Linked DNA regions of Homo sapiens: region 1 is linked to region 2. Evidence: fine-mapped expression QTL. A gene starts in region 2. The other region holds a variant in brackets. All regions are shown on one strand. Distances are between the middles of the regions.

The links. PIP is the estimated chance that this variant, and not a neighbour inherited with it, causes the effect.
Region 1: its variant is fine-mapped to the expression of PDCD6IP in whole blood (INTERVAL, PIP 0.95).

The regions. Positions count from the first base shown.
Region 1 is chr3:33,824,163-33,829,162 of GRCh38, reverse strand. It overlaps PDCD6IP (programmed cell death 6 interacting protein), which reads right to left. Exons shown (of 18, transcript NM_013374.6): 5 at 3,823-3,976; 6 at 2,583-2,683; 7 at 194-310. Among named protein-coding and RNA genes, the nearest start is that of PDCD6IP, 28 kb to the right of the region's middle. The variant A/C (reference allele first, on the strand shown) is at 2,548.
Region 2 is chr3:33,795,813-33,801,341 of GRCh38, reverse strand. PDCD6IP (programmed cell death 6 interacting protein) reads right to left here and starts at 2,712. Exons shown (of 18, transcript NM_013374.6): 1 at 2,405-2,712. The coding sequence starts at 2,613. It overlaps PDCD6IP-DT (PDCD6IP divergent transcript), which reads left to right and starts at 2,823. Exons shown (of 2, transcript NR_183731.1): 1 at 2,823-2,947; 2 at 3,320-5,529. RefSeq lists enhancers at 2,016-2,549, 2,496-2,845.

The DNA.
Region 1 (5,000 bases), 28 kb before region 2:
CATCTATTTTTTAGATAAAATATGAGACCTCAAAAAAACATGCAGTAAAGTCTAAAGATAAAAACAATCACTTGTCCCTGCTGATAGGGGTGATGAACGGGAAAGGTTTTTATGGGCAAACTTGGAAATCTCACTAGGAAAAAAAAGAGAGATCCAAGTTAGTTACTTAAATATTTATTACCAAGAGACTCACCTGTAACCTTGCAATTTCTTCTCCAAATTTCTTCTGCTGTTTTGCCAGGATAGACTGATGGTACTCAGCATTGGCCTGCATGATACAGTGCTTTGCAGCCAAGACAGGGAACACCTCCTGGAAATAAAAATACTGACCAGGGGAGAGTCCAACCACACAAACCACCACAGACAACATGGGATGCAGGAAGAAAAAGGAAAAGAAGACAGAAATTAGAATCACCCCATTAATGGTTTAGAGATTAAGGTTAGTCATTAGGTGTAAACAGAGAAGACGACATGATTTTGTGTGGATTGAAATCTATGAATTAAATTTTTTTTCTTCCAATTGAAGGGGTTTTTTTTAACTGTTAACTGAAGCCAATTTAGGTTTTTACAATTCTCTTTAATTGATCCATGAAGTCAACATTTTGTTTACAAAAAGAAAAGCATGCATTATTAGAAAGAGAAGTAGAATGGACATTCACAGAGGAACACAAAGCACAGAGCTTTAGAAGCTTTCTTATGAGCCCTTACCCAGCCTGTAGAGTTAACTAAACCATCATTACTCACATATACTAATGAAATTGCTCTATAGATTACTGTTTCATCATGTTTTAAAAAAAAGACAGTAAATTTTCACTTAAATTCATATCCTAAGAGAGTTCTTACTGAAGATGATTTTAGCCATATAAAAATGATTTAGTATCATAGATACACTAATATTTCAGTGTCATATACTCAAAAACATATCATAGACAAATGCACTAAGTATATGACCAATGATAATGATAAAGTGTTATTTTGCCTATTTGTTTTGAAAATAATTCCAGTCAAAATTAATTTCAAAAGATCCAAAGACATAAAGCAGGAAAGCAATTATACTAGTGGTGGCTCTTCCAAAACGTCAAAATCTAACCTGTAACCTCACTGCTTTTAGGAAGTATATGATATTAAAAAAATCCAAGGAATTAGGCTAGACAATCACTATCTAAACAAAAAATGTAAGAGAATCAAAAACTGAATTACTACCTTGTGTGCTTTCCTGTCTCCCAGGGAATAATTTCCTACCTTCCTGGATCACTACTTGCAGACTTTTCAGTTTTATAACTAGAATATGAAAATACCTTATGAGCTTTATTAGTAAAAAGGAAAAAATAAAAGACATCTAAATTTCAAACTACACTCATGCCAGTTCTCAAGGTAAGGCTGGAGCAACTTGGTTCTGAAACAGGAGATTTTCAAGGAATACCAGGAATGCTGCAGAGGTAGCTTCCAAGTCTTTGTAGGTGACTTTCTTCTCTCCATGACAGGACTGAACTAATGGCCCAACAGGATGTAACGGAACACTGTGCAGCTGAACATGAGGTCTTTCAGATGAAAAAAACATGAGAGGAGATCCCAAGTCTCTTTTTAAGAGGAAGGCTGTTAATACCCAAGAATCCTGGGCAAATTTCTACTAGGCTCTTGGTGTATCTTAAATCCCCAGGAATCGTCACATTAATTCCTTATTGATCATTTTCTGAGTAATAAGTACTGTTAATGCACTTATGTGCATTTTTACTTCACCCCCAAGTTGTCTGCAATTTTTTAATGTACAAAGATTCCTGAATATGACTTACAAATCAATAAATTCCCCTACCAAAAAAAATCATGTAACAGATACCATATGATGAAACTAATTCCTTGAACATTTCTGAAGGAAGTAGTTGAAACATATATTTCACTCAATCTTTAAGTTTTCTTTATTAATCATTCCAAATTTACTAGTGATTTGCTTTGTCATTAACAAATGATCATCACTGAATAGTCTTTACAATTGTCACTTCAGAAAGGTTTACATTAAAACATTATACTTCCTGTGATATGTGGTTTAAGATGGTTGCTTTCCTTAGCTGTCCATTAGCAGCCCAATTTTTTATCCCTGTTGGCAAAACTGAATTCTAATCAAAGTATCAGATGAATTTGTTAAGTTTTCTTTTCCTTTTTTCTTTATGTCTGTTTTTGCGCTTTAAGGCTCATCTTTAAGAAAACAGGACAATAATTAAAAGTGTGAATCATCAACATGCTCAAGTATACATGCTTGTACCAAATCACCAATGATTCAGAACTACACAATGCCTTGATTTGATAAAAGTATTGAAAACAGATGGTCAACATTTTCCAGAAAGAGTTCTAGCTTGGAAAAACAAGTTTAGTAAAAGGTAAAGACAAAGGCATCCCCTAAACATAAAAGAATTGTTCATGCATCTTAAATTAAAAAAAAAAAAAAACTATTTCTACTATATACTTCAGATAACTCTATTAAAACTTCAAATTTCTTTATAAGTTTCAACTTGCTTCTTATACACAAAAAAGTCTAAATATTTCACATGC[A/C]AAGTAAGCAAGTGTTTATAAAAACAATAACTGACCTTGGGGAGAGTATCTTTGTATTGACACTGTTTGAAAGCATCACCAAAATAATCTGCAGCCTGATTAGCCAATTTAGCTATGATGGCATCTTTCATTTTATCTGGAATACAATATGACCATTATAATTAAAATAAATATGAGCTAATCTGACATGTCTCAGTATAAACACTGAGGTCACAAGTTTGTACACGCATCTGAAAACATCTTTCTTGATGAAATCACATTTTCTGCACAAAATTTAGAACAGACAAAATAGATTAGTGGTTGCCAGCAGTGGGGGAAAGGGGAGTGAGGAGTGACTGCTAATGGGTACATGGCTTCTTTCTGGGATGATGGTAATGTTCTAAAATAAGATAGTGGTAATCAAAACTCTATGAATATACTAAAAATCTTATGTTGTATACTTAGAAAGGGTGAACTTGAGTGTATATAAATTCTATCTCAATATAAGCTGTTATTTTAAAAGAAAAAAGTATTCCAATTCCTATTTCTTCCACATGATGACTTATCTCTTATTTTCAGTTTCAGCCCATATTACATATTCAGCCCATTTTCAATCTCTCATGCTAACTTATATGCCTTATAAGAATTATTCTTATTCCCTCATTCCCAGGGCTAGGGACTGTGCCTGGATGACTCCTTCTTGTCATTTAGGTCTACTTTAAAGAGGACCTCCTGAAAGAAAGCCTTCTTGACTAATGAATCTAAAATTAGCCCAGCTTCCCCTATATCCCTATCCCATAACCATACCACCAGCCACTATCATATAATTCTCTTATTTTTTATAGCAATTATTTCTGAAATCTTATAGCAATTATTTATGAAATTATCCTGTCTACTTAATTCTTGCTTATCATCTCTCCCGTCGCCAAAACCTAAGTTGTTTTCTAACTCCGTTTATCTAGAAACTAGAACAGTGACTGGCACAGAGTAAGTATCCAATAAATATTTGCGAATAAATGTCTGACATGTTAAAAACATACATAAATACTATTCCAGAATGGAGTGTTTAAAGACAATTACTAAAGATCTATTTCATGACTTCAAACACAGCCTACATTCTTAAATGTAAATTTGTGCCACAAATTCAGAAAAGGATAGCTGAAAATTTTCCATAATTCATGTATCAAGTTCAAGAAGGACAGCTCGACATTGAACATATTATATTCTAATCACTTTCTTAATTTAAAAGCCTTATCACTTTTTTTCACATGCAACAAAAAGATAAATTGGAGTTACCTCTTGTGGCTTTTAAAAAAAATACTTCTTGAGCCTGTGCCAGCATAATAAGACTGAGGGTCCCAACAGTATCTGGAGATATGTCCACGGTCGGCTCTCGACTTAAGGCAGATAAAACCGTCTCTTTAATATGTAAAAAGGCACCACTAGCAAACTAAAGGGGGGAAAAAGAATTTCTTTATAGGAACTCAGCAAGACTTAATTTCCTACTGTTACATATAAAAGTCATTTCAAATGTTAACTCAGTGAACAGTTAATATATTTAAATTTTTATATTATGCAAAACCAATCTAAAACATCTGACCTACAGACAATAAGGTTATCTTTCTAAAACTCTATAGCGTAACAAGAGATTTAACAAAGATTAAAAGTAAATTACAAGGAAAAACAAAGTAAACTAATGGAACAATCTGATTAAACTATTTTTAGATATACTTCCTCAAAATTAACATGAGAATAGAGGCGGGGATAAACATTAAAATATTTTTAGTACTGCAATGCTCTTGCTTTGGTCCCAAACAAATTCATCTTTCAAATAATTAAACATGCCGTAGTTAGGGGACACCCCAGGTAGTACATACACCTAGTCCTCTGAGGAACAGCATTACTACCCATTGCCAGTGATTTCTGTCTGGCCTTCAGAGCTCACTAGTGAAATGTTCCCCATCAGATTTTTCATCTCAATTATATTTTGTTAATACTAAAATAACTTTGCTTTCATGAAACAAATTATACTAAGAAAAAGAAATAAATCAGTCTGGGATTAAAAGGTGTCATGAGTTGGCCGGGTGCGGTGGCTCACGCCTGTTAATCCCGGCACTTTGGGAGGCTGAGGTGGGCAGATTACCTGAGGTCAGGAGTTCAAGACCAGCCTGGCCAACATGATGAAACCCCGTCTCTACTAAAAATACAAAAATTAGCTGGGCATGATGGCACACACTTGTAATCCCAGCTGCTCGGGAGGCTGAGGCAGGAGAATCACTTGAACCCAGGAGGCGGAGGTTGCAGTGAGCCAAGATCACGCCATTGTACTCCTGCCTGGGCAACAGAGCGAGACTCCATCTCAAAAAAGAAAAAAAAAAAAAGGTGTCATGAGTTAGATAAATAGACAACACAGAGAAAACTCAAAGTCAAATGTATTAAAATGAACAGCATGTTTCTGCAGTCAGTAAGTATTA
Region 2 (5,529 bases):
TAAACTCTGTTTTTCAAAGTTCATTAGTTTAAAAAGTTCATTAAGTTAAAAAATTAATGTTAAGTTTACACAATTATCCAAACATAATTATTAAAAATAAGATATTCTGCCGGATTTGAATGAACATCACACAACTGATTCACATCTAATTTTACAGCGTATATACCTACAAAACTTTTGTACCTACCTCCATTATAAACTTTAGTAATATCTCCAAGCTTACCCTAACCCCTCTAGAAGCCCAAAAAGTGAAAATACTTAATATTTGTTGAATTAATGTGGCAGGAGGGGATTATACAGAGGTGACTAAAGAAACATGGTTAGTTTCAAAGAGACTATATCTACAACAGGTCCACTACCTAGGAACAGTTCACACATTTAAGTCTGGTAAAAAGAATAAAGGAAGGAACAAATGAATTAAGTTTTAAAGTTGACAGGAGAACCGTATCCAAACCATTATCCACCAACCTCCCATGTCTGTTAGCTTAAAACCCATGCACCAAGTGCTTCTGAAGACCCCAAATCTGAGGGCTGGAACCAAATTTGATATATTCAACAAGATTTTTATCACAGGGCTCATTATACCACAACTATGTTTTCTTAATATTACTAATGGAAAATCCTCACTGAATGCTATTCATGCCTACATAAAAATTACCTTGAAATTGTTTAATTATGTTAATTCTAAAGAATGGCTAAGTATTTCTAGGTTAACTTTAAAAAAAATGCTTATGCTATTAGACTAATGATCCTTGCAGCCCAACAGTTGTAGCTCTAAAATTTGACACCAAGGGGTCTTAATTCCTCTGAGCAATCTATTCAGTACCCCTTCCTTCGGAGAACCAACCCTTCCCCAGTCCGGACTCATCTTGCTTTGATCCATGGGGTAAGGAGAAATTAAACCGGCTGGATGACTCAGATAAGGGCAATTAACTTAGCCCATTTCCCACCATCATAAATGGGTGCAAACAAACCCAGGAGCCTCCCATGGACTTCCACCAGAGCTAAGGAGAAAAGCACTCCCTTCTGTAAGATACTGAGTGTTGCGGACGATTGTTATTACACTACAGCCATCCCTCTCAATACATGAACAAAGCTTTCGAGGGAAGCATCACGGAGGCAAGACGATCTCCAGTGATACCTAAAGCTAAGGAAGGAATATCCCTAGACTTTTCAGTTAGCAGAATAAGTCTTACTTTTTTTTTTTTTTTTTTTTTTTTTTGAGATGGAGTCTCACTCTGTCGCCCAGGCTGGAGTGCAGTGGCGCGATCTCGGCTCACTGCAAGCTCCGTCTCCCAGGTTCACACCATTCTCCTGCCTCAGCCTCCCGAGTAGCTGGGACTACAGGCACCCGCCACCACGCCCGGCTAATTTGTTGTATTTTTAGTAGAGATGGGGTTTCACCGTGCTAGCCAGGATGGTGTCGATCTCCTGACCTCGTGATCCGCCCGCCTCGGCCTCCCAAAGTGCTGGGATTACAGGCGTGAGCCACCGCGCCCGGCAGAATAAGTCTTTTCTTAGCTCAAGCTAGTTTAGCCTGGGTTTCTGCTACTTGGATTGGAATACAATTGTGATTCTCCTGTGAAACAAGTAGAATATACTATACGGAGAAAACGAGATTAACAAGGTATGCAAAAGAAATGTTTAACTATAAAATCGTAAAAAATGTTCTTATAACTATTAAGTATCATGAAAGGAACCCTCATTAAATCAGCATGAGCTAAATAAGCGTTTGCTAAAATAACAAATTTACTCTACTGTGTATATATCTGTTTGTGAACAAACTGCTTTTAAACAACCTACCTTGAACGGTTCAACTATGTAACTAGAGTTTTATTTCAAATAGTTGTAGCTCCTAACTTTCAGAATTCTCCATCTATCATTTGATTATTTTGAACTGAGGAAGACGGTCCATTTCATGTGGACAATGTGATGAGCTGATCAGACATTTGGTCCAGTGTCCCAATTCCCCCACTTCCCCCACTGCCTTCAAGCAACTACTATTATGAAATCAAAATGTGGCCCAAGAAAGACAGTGATGGAAAAATGGGGCGAAAGGGGAAGCTTCAGTTAGAGACCCAAAAAAGTGAAGACTAGTTCTAAGTAAATGTGGCAAAAGAGATCAGTACAGGGCAGACTGCTGCTCCCAGGTATCTGATCCACGGAGCCCTCGCCGACCAAGGGCTAGAGCAGACGTGCAGGCAGGACAAGCGGGCAGTCACAGCGGGCCTGCAGGGCGGGTCCTGCTCACCAGCAAAGAATGCAGACCACACCTACGCGCCTGGTCAGGCCGGGACGGGGCGGCTCCGCCCAGGTTACAGGATTGAAGGAAGGGGGGAGACGGGAAGAGGAGCGGCGAGCGACGGCTGGCAGACAACCTACCCACTCCCAGCCCCGCGCCCACCTCAGGAGCGTCTCGAGCGCGCCCTCGTGCTTGTCCAGCGGACGACCGACTGCGGCGCGGCGCAGCTTGCTGAGCTCCTCCGCCGCGCGGCAGTACTGGGCCTGCTCTTCCCCGCCGCTTGGGTAAGTCTGCTGGATGAACTTCACCAGCGGCTTGGCCAGGTCCACCTCTGAGGTCTTTTTCAGCTGCACCGAGATGAATGTCGCCATGATCAGCGCCTCCGCCGCCGTTCGGGCCAAACAGACCGCGGACAGCTTACGAGGGCCGAGGAGAGAGAGGTACTGGGCTGGCGGACTGGCGGACTGACTGGCTGACAGACTTGCGCTCCGCCTGCGTTCCGGGTCCGGCAACTTCCGGGAGCTCCAGCGCAGGCGCACTGGATGCGGGGTCCTTAAGCTGTCCGCGGTCACGTGAAGGTGTCGCGGCGGCTACGCCCACCTGGACCCAGTTTACCCTGTACTGTGCTGCAAAATATTACTTTCTCCCCATCTGGAATTCTTCCCTTCCTCCTTCCTGCCGCAGTGGTGTACTGAGCACTTTCACGTAAGAGTATTCCTCCACTCGAACAACCCCCCGGAGAAGTACTGGTGTCACTGCCACCTGCGAGAGTTTGCGGCTACCTCCCCAAGAGGCAGTCCCAGGGTTATTGTGACCTATGATGTTTATTCAACTACTGTTGACGGGCTGCTGTGCACAGGGAACCTAGTAGGCAAGACCCCTGCCATCGTGCAGCTTACTGTCAGGTTGACACAGACCTTAAGGTAAACGGAAAAAGTATCAGGAAAAAAACAGGGTGCTTGGGACTTAGGAGATGTTAAGATCGCTTGGAGGACCCTAATTTAAATAAGATAAAGTAGGTTTTCTCCGAGTAGGTTAACTGAAAATGAACCTGTGTCTCTGGTTGCTGTTTTGTAGAAAGAACAAAATTTTAAATAAATTAAAAACGACACCTGTAATTTGAGAAGATGCTTGATATCAGAAGAGGAGAAGAGTGGAGAGGGGTGGAGTGGCAAAGGAGAGCCTCCAAACCAAAAGCCTGCGGCAGAGGCCCTAGGAGGCAAGCACTTAACCATGTTTCAGGACTAGAAACGAAACATGTGACAAGACCTTTAAAAACAAATAGAATGGGATGGAATAAAGTTGGATGAGTAAGCAGGCATCAAATCATTCAGAAACTTGTTGTCCAAGTTGAAGAATTTGTTTAGTATTGTATAATAAATGCAGAGGAAGCTATATACACTTATAATTTACATTTTTTAAAGGCCACGTTGTAGCTCAATCGGATAGTTTGTCTTTTGATGGGATGTAGTATACAGTATCATCATGGTATATTCCAGGCAAAAATATTTAACTTGAATCTGTCAAGCCTTTGCATCTAACACAGTTTATAAAAAATACAACAGATAGATGAACAAACTAAATGATGCCAGAGGAAGTAACTAGACAGATCCAGAAGGTGAAACATTCTGCAGGATAACTGGCCCATCTCTTCAACAATTTGTCATGATAAAAGCAACTGCTTTATGAAAAGAAATTTAAGGGACATAACAGTTTGAATTGGATCCTGGTTTGAACAGACTGTCTATAAAATGCATTTTCAGGACCATTAAAGAAATATGAATGTAGATGGACTGAGTATTGGATAAAATAGAACTGTATTGCCATGGAAAAGATCATTAACTGAAAAGAGCAAGTCACGAAATAGTATGTTACAGCATCTCATTTTGGTTTAAAAATGCACATATATGTATTTATGTACAACTAAAAAAATAGTGGGCTTATACCCTAAGGTGTTAGTATTGGTAATCTTTGGAAGTGGAAATGTGTATTTTTTTCTTTGTGTTTGCCTATCTTTTTCATTGTAACTTTTGCAGCACATAGACTACTTTCATTATAGTAAAAGTTTATTTTACCACAATTTTTTTTTTTTTAGAAAGAGTCTCACTCTGTCACCCAGGCTGGAGTGCAGTGGCACAATCTCAGCCCACTGCAACCTCCACCTCCCAGGTTCAAGCTATTCTCCTGCCTCAGCCTTCTGAGTAGCTGGGACTACAGGTGCACACCACATGCCTGGCTAATTTTTGTATTTTTAATAGAGACTGGATTTCGCGATGTTGGCCCGGCTGGTCTCGAACTCCTGGCCTCAAGTGATCCACCCGCTTTAGCCTCCCAAAGTGCTGGGATTACAGGCGTGAGCCACTGCACCCGGCCTATTTTACCACAATTTATAAAAATTTTTGTTTATTTTAATTAAGCTATTCTATGTTAAAATAAGTAGCCACCCTTGGCTGATGCATAAAGAAAAAATTAGAGGAAGGAAAGAATGGAGGCAAGGAGGCAAATCATGAGACCATTTCAGAAATCAAGACGAAATCAGGAAAGCTAACATTAGCAAGAGTGAACCAAACTGATAATATCTTTGAGTTTAAAACTGAAGAATTTACCAATGAACTGCATAGGAAAGTAAAGAAAAGAGAGTGGTCAAGATAGGTCCTGGTTTTGGGGCCTGAACATCTGAGTGGTTAGTAGAATCATTACCAGTTGATAACCCATGGAAGAGGGTGGGGGATGGGTGGTGTCTTGTAGGTTGGTTGACAGGACTGACCCATTGGGAAGATAACGAAGAAGCAAAGTATATGAAAAGAGGAGAAAGGGTAACCAGAGGAGGGAGGATACAAAGGGAGTGATTAGCCATCAGAAAGATGAGGGACATGACATTTGTTGAGGCAGATGGCGGAGAAAAGAAAGTTAACATAGATGTGGTTAGTTTTGTGGCATTGACCAAAGGAAGATTAAGGTGATACTATCTGATGGCTTGGAATGAAAACCAAACTCCCTGCCACAACATGATGATCTTTCTCTGCAACTTCATATTTTGCCTCTTGTTCCTCATTTGTTACCACTGAGTCACAATGGTCTTTTTAGTTTCTCAAACACACCAAGATCTTTCTTGCCTCATGTGACCTAGAATGTTTTCTCCCTTTCTTCATATCTCAGTTGAAAGGTCTCCTCTCCTCATCATCATACTATCTAAAGTAGATTCCCTCCCTTGTTAACCTCTAGCGCAGCCATTAGTTCCTTCATAACACTTACCCTAACTTGCAAGTATTTTGTTTGTTGATATA